2 separate regions of the Homo sapiens genome follow, and region 2 is linked to region 1. The links come from fine-mapping of genetic effects on gene expression. A gene starts in region 1. The other region holds a variant in brackets. All regions are shown on one strand. Distances are from middle to middle.

Region 1 (2,859 bases):
TGTTGATCCAAGCCTTTAGGCTGTAGGGAGGGAGCATGGGTGAGAATGGTGTGCTGATTACTGGGGACACGCAGACAGCGGCAGTCAGCATTCCCACACCCCTGCCCGCCTCCCTGCTAACACAAGATGTGAATGCACACACTGGGTCAATCGGGGTCACCGAATCCCCCTCTGGGAAATTCCCGAGAGAGTGAAGGGCTGGGTGGGATCCCGGGAATGGATTCAGCCAGAGGCGGGAGGCCTAGATTCCACTCCCCTCTTTCACATGCGCTATCTCCTTGAGTGACTTACTCAAGAGGCTCCGTGTCTTTGCCTCGGTGAAAAAGAGGACCCCTTGGCCGGGCGTGGTGGCTCACGCCTTTAATCCCAGCACTTTGGGAGGCCGAGGCGGGCGGATCACCTGAGGTTGGGAGTTCGAGACCAGCCTGACCAACATGGAGAAACCCCGTCTGTACTAAAAAATAAAATAATATACAAAATTAGTCAGACTTGGTGGCGCATGCCTGTAATCCCAGCTACTAGGGAGGCTGAGGCAGGGGAATCGCTTGAACCCGGGAGGCGGAGGTTGCGGGGAGCTGAGATCGCACCATTGCACTCCAGCCTGGGCAACAAGAGCGAAACTCCGTCTCAAAAAAAAGAAAGAAAGAAAGAAAGAAAAGAAAAAGAAAAAGAAAAAGAGGACCCCTCTTCTACCGGCAGCCATCACCGCGCCAGGCTCAGGCGTGACCCTCACGCCAGTGGAAGGGGATTGAGATCCAGAGCGAAGGCGGCGGCGCCAGGGCATTGCAGCCACGGAGCGCCAGGGCCGCCAGCTCCGCCAGGGGGCGCGCCCGGGACCTCCCTGCGCTCCGCGCGCCGCGCCCCGCCCCGCGCCACCCCCGCTCCGGCCGGCCCTGCGGAGGGCGCCCCCAGCGGCCAGGGCGCAAGCGGAGGGGGCGGCGGCCCTGTTCCCCTACGCGGGCCTCGGCGCCCCTCCCGGCTTCCTTCAGACCTGCAAGGCTGCAGCCTGGGTCCCCCGATCCAAAGACGGTCCCTGAGGCGAGGGGCGGGAGAACGATTCGGGGCAGGTCTGCAGTTCGAACTTGCCCAGAGCAGGAGAAAGGCGGCCCAGTGTCCCGGTCGTGGCAGGCGCCATCTGCCCGACCAGCGCCTGGGTCAGCCCCGCGCCGCCCCCTGCTCCGCACGGGTTAATCCCCCTCGCCGCCCGCTCGCCGCCCGCTGGCTTCCCGGTGCCAAAGTGGGTGTTGCTGGAATTCCTCGCTCCCTCTCCGGTAATGAGGGGGCTGAGCTGTCCCTCCGAGGAGGGGGCCTGGTGTGGATAAAAGAGACGAAAAAGCCGGGGGAGGTTTCCAAAAATAAAACCGTCCGGGTCCCCTTCAGACGGCTGCAGGCACAGGGAGGAGGCGCGAAGGTGCAGCAGCCGTGCGAGCCCAGCTGGAGTAGGAGCGCGGACTCGAGGCTCGGGGCGCGCAGCCCTCGTTCCGCCGAGAGCCGGGCCCCCAGTCGGCCGCTTCAGGGCCCCCTAGACTCAGAGAAGCTGGCCGCCGGGCGGGGCCGGGAGAACAGCCCGCGGGCGTCCAGCGTGCCGACCACAAAGCTCTTCGCGGTGCCCGCGCGCACCACTCTCCAGCCGCCCCGCGCCATGAGGCCGCGGACCAAAGCCCGCAGCCCGGGGCGCGCCCTGCGGAACCCCTGGAGAGGCTTCCTGCCGCTCACCCTGGCTCTCTTCGTGGGCGCGGGTCATGCCCAAAGGGACCCCGTAGGGAGATACGAGCCGGCTGGTGGAGACGCGAATCGACTGCGGCGCCCTGGGGGCAGCTACCCGGCAGCGGCTGCAGCCAAGGTGTACAGTCTGTTCCGGGAGCAGGACGCGCCTGTCGCGGGCTTGCAGCCCGTGGAGCGGGCCCAGCCGGGCTGGGGGAGCCCCAGGAGGCCCACCGAGGCGGAGGCCAGGAGGCCGTCCCGCGCGCAGCAGTCGCGGCGTGTCCAGCCACCTGCGCAGACCCGGAGAAGCACTCCCCTGGGCCAGCAGCAACCAGCACCCCGGACCCGGGCCGCGCCGGCTCTCCCACGCCTGGGGACCCCACAGCGGTCTGGGGCTGCGCCCCCAACCCCGCCGCGAGGGCGGCTCACGGGGTGAGCATGGGAGAGGGAAGTTTGGAGGGTACAGAGGGGAGCCAGGGCTCATTTGTGGAGGGGCGTGCAGGCGAGAGGAGAGGGCGCCGCTCTCATACCCTCGTCCCTCTGTCTTTAGTACTTCGGGAAACAGCCCCGAGGTTCCAAAATCGGGATTGGAAGATTTGATCCGCTTTCGAAGAGTTGAAGGCAGATAGATCATCATCCTCATCCTTTCTTACCAACTCTCCCGGAGCCCCGACGTTAAATCCTTTCGCAAGGCGCCTCTCCACTCGCCCGCGTTCCTCCTGCCTGCAACTAACGAGCTCTTGTAGACTCTTGCAGCGCTGCCGGGATCTGAGAGGCAGCGGGGAGAGGGCAGGAGGGTGGGCGCTCCAGGCTCTTGACGCCCAGGGGAGGTTGAGCTGGCTCAGAGCGCGGGTTGGCGGAGGTGTCGGGGGCCCCATGGAGAGAAGGTAGATGCGTCTCCAGGAGGGGAGCCGGCAGCGAAGCTGGTGCGTCGGGACAAGTGTCGTGGGGCGTGGGTCGGCCTGCGCACGCTGAGGGCTGGATGCGGGCGTGGGCGTGAGCTCTGGGTACTTTGGGCGGGAAGCGTGTCCTGATGAGGCTGCGACACAGTGGGCGCGTGGAGAATTGGATCAGTGTGCTCTTGTGCATCTAGGTGTAAGCGTGACTTGGGCGCGTTGCAGGGCTAAGCCACCGCACAACCCTGCAATTTACTTT
Region 2 (2,904 bases), 110 kb after region 1:
GTGCATCTGGTCTCTTCTGTTGTTTTTATTTCATATCAGATTAAATTTCTTTACCATGTTGGCTAAGTCTAAATATTAGAGATGAGGCTGTGCCTACTCCCTGGCCAGCTCTGCTGATAGCCTATGATGGGTTCCAATGGGAAATGACTCTTTACTATTAAAAGACAAGGAAAGCTCTGACTTCGTACTTCTCTGATGAATGGCAATGTAAATGAACAAGGCTCCATGTGACTGGAGCATGGAAGTGAATGCTACTTTCTTAATTTAATCTGCCCTGTCCTACCTGCTCCTCTGATTGTTAGCCATCACATAACTTATTGAATGCTTGCCATGTGCCAGGCACTGTGCTGAGTGCCATACATACATTTCATTTAATTATCCAATAATCCTACTTACTATTGTTTATTCTCAATTTACAGGTGAGGAAACTGAGACATAGAAAGCTTAAATAATTTGCTCTAGGTCCCTATACTAATTGAGATGTTTTCAGCAGACAAAAATAAGTCACTCTTACGCATGTAAAAATATTCTTTCACTCATAATAAAAGAAATGCAACTTAAAACCATACTGAGATCCTTTTTAAAACTGTCAGATTGGCAAAGATCAAAAAGCTTGTTAAGACTCCTAGCTGGCAAGCATGTGGGAAATAGGTACTCTCATAACAGCTGACAGAAGTACATATTGAAGAGGACAATATGGCAATGTCCTTCAAAATTATAAAAGCACTAACTCTTTGATCCAGTAGTTTCCACTTCTAGGAACTTAACCTTCAGATATATTTTCACCAGATATAAAATGACATACGTAAGAAGTTATTACTGCATCATTTGTAATAGCTAAAGATTAGAAACAATTAATTGCTATGGAACCCTTAAAAAAGGTGGCTCTAAATTCCTTAAGAAAGATATCCAAAACAAATTAAGGGGAAAAGGGAGGGTTGCATAACAGCATGTAACATAACACTATTTGTCTAAAGAATGGGGAAAGAGAAGCGGTTGTCTGTTCACCTCATCCTTGCCACTCCGCCTTATACCTCACCATCGGAGAACTTACCATCCCCCAAATATATCCTGCTGGCACTACACCTTCGTAACTGCTGTTCCCACTGCCCCCACAACACTCCAATCTCCACCTTCCTGCCAACCTTGAGATATTGTATGCATATATACATATTTCCTTTGTTTAAAATACAAATAGCATACTATGCATGCTGTTCTGCACTTTGCTTTTTTTTTATACTTGCAATTAGAGCTGCCTCATTTCATTTTACAGCTGTATACTATTCCATTGAATGGATAAACCATAATTTATTTAATCAGTCCCTCACTGACAGACGTTTCCATTGTTTCCTGTCTTTTGCTATAAATAATGCTGTAATGAATATTCTTGTGCATATTTCACATTAATTTATGGGATTACATCTGCAGGATAAATTCTTAGAACCAATGGTGGTTTGTGGGGAGGGTGACAGGGTGGATAGGTACAGGATTGGGAGACTTTTCACTGTATCTCCTTTTGTATTTTTTTGAATTTTGTACCATATGTATCACCTATTCAAAAAAAAT[A/G]AAATATTTTTAAATACAGTTGCTGGCCAAAGATTGCTTAAATGCTCCTTCTCTTTATATATTTATCTGACTATAATTTACAACTAAAGCCAGGTGCTAATTATGTCAAAATTCCTTAATGCAAATTTGTCAGGCAGCCCTGTGGCATTTTTATGAAGAGTGGAAAATACGGATTTTAAAAGAACGATCATAAACATCAATGCTAGATAGGAAGAAAAATAGAAGAGATTCCTTCCTTTCAGACAAAACATGCAGTGAACAGTGTTAGGCCCTGCCCAAAGCCAGCTGCACAACATTAGCTTGGGTCCAGATTTCAAGGGAGAGCTGTACCACCACGATCAGTGCTGCCCACTTCCCTATACCAGGTTGATCCTGCCAAATGCCACCCCTGCACTCTAATGCTTTATAACAAACGACAAAACAACAGAGCTCGATTCTCAGAAGTTACAGAAAGAAGAGTCTCTTCCTGAACACCTACTTTAGTAGTCCTTCCTAATCTTTTACTTCTCAACTTCTTTCCTCCTATCCCTTGTAATCACTCAACATTCCCATACGAAGAAACTATGGGTGGGCCAGGCATGGTGGCTCGTGCCTGTAATACCGGCACTTTGGGAGGCTGAGGCAGGAGGATTGCTTGAGCCCAGGAGTTCGAGACTCCTGTGCAACATGGTGAAACCCCATCTCTACAAAAAATACAAAAAGTAGCTGGGCTTGGTGGTGTGCACCTGTAGTCCTAGCTACTTGCAGGGGCTGAGGTGGGAAGATTGTTTGAGCCTGGGAGGTAGAGGCTGCACCTCTGCACTCCAGCCTAGGAGACAGATTGAGACCCTGCCTCAAATAAAAAGAAAGAAACTAAGAGTGGATGGGACACATAATTTACATACCCTTGGTCACTCTCATCACATAACTCAAGTATGGTACCACAATAAGATCTGGGCATTGACCAAGAGACCTTCTCTTTGAAAAACAACATAAAGTCTCCACCAATGGAGACTTCCTGCTGCCACTTCTGGTTTCCCAATGAAGCTTTCTCAGTGTGAAGTAACATGATTTTCCCAAATCCGCCTTTTTTTTTTTTTTTTTTTTTTTTGAGACAGAGTCTCACTCTGCCACCCAGGCTGGAGTCCAGTGGTGCAATCTTGGCTCACTGCAATCTCCACCTCCTGGGTTCAAGTGATTCTCTTGCCTCAGTCTCCCGAGTAGCTGGGATTACAGGTGTCCACCACGCAGTTAATTTTTGTATTTTTAGTAGAGATGGGGTTTCACCATGTTGCCCAGGCTGGTCTCAAACTCCTGACCTCAGGTGATCTGCCTGCTTTGGCCTCCCAAAGTGCTGGG

What was found. PIP is the estimated chance that this variant, and not a neighbour inherited with it, causes the effect.
Region 2: its variant is the best candidate, but not a certain one, in a credible set for the expression of LTBP2 in whole blood (TOPMed, PIP 0.71).

Annotation. Positions count from the first base shown.
Region 1 is chr14:74,610,728-74,613,586 of GRCh38, reverse strand. It overlaps LTBP2 (latent transforming growth factor beta binding protein 2), which reads left to right and starts at 1,350. Exons shown (of 36, transcript NM_000428.3): 1 at 1,350-2,136. The coding sequence starts at 1,643. It overlaps LOC101928352 (a long non-coding RNA gene), which reads right to left and starts at 402. Exons shown (of 2, transcript XR_944029.4): 1 at 292-402; 2 at 1-20. RefSeq lists a silencer at 720-1,039 and an enhancer at 667-1,294.
Region 2 is chr14:74,496,863-74,499,766 of GRCh38, reverse strand. LTBP2 (latent transforming growth factor beta binding protein 2) reads left to right here. Exons shown (of 36, transcript NM_000428.3): 36 at 1-1,584. ISCA2 (iron-sulfur cluster assembly 2) reads right to left here. Exons shown (of 4, transcript NM_194279.4): 4 at 2,661-2,904. Among named protein-coding and RNA genes, the nearest start is that of ISCA2, 4.6 kb to the right of the region's middle. The variant A/G (reference allele first, on the strand shown) is at 1,567.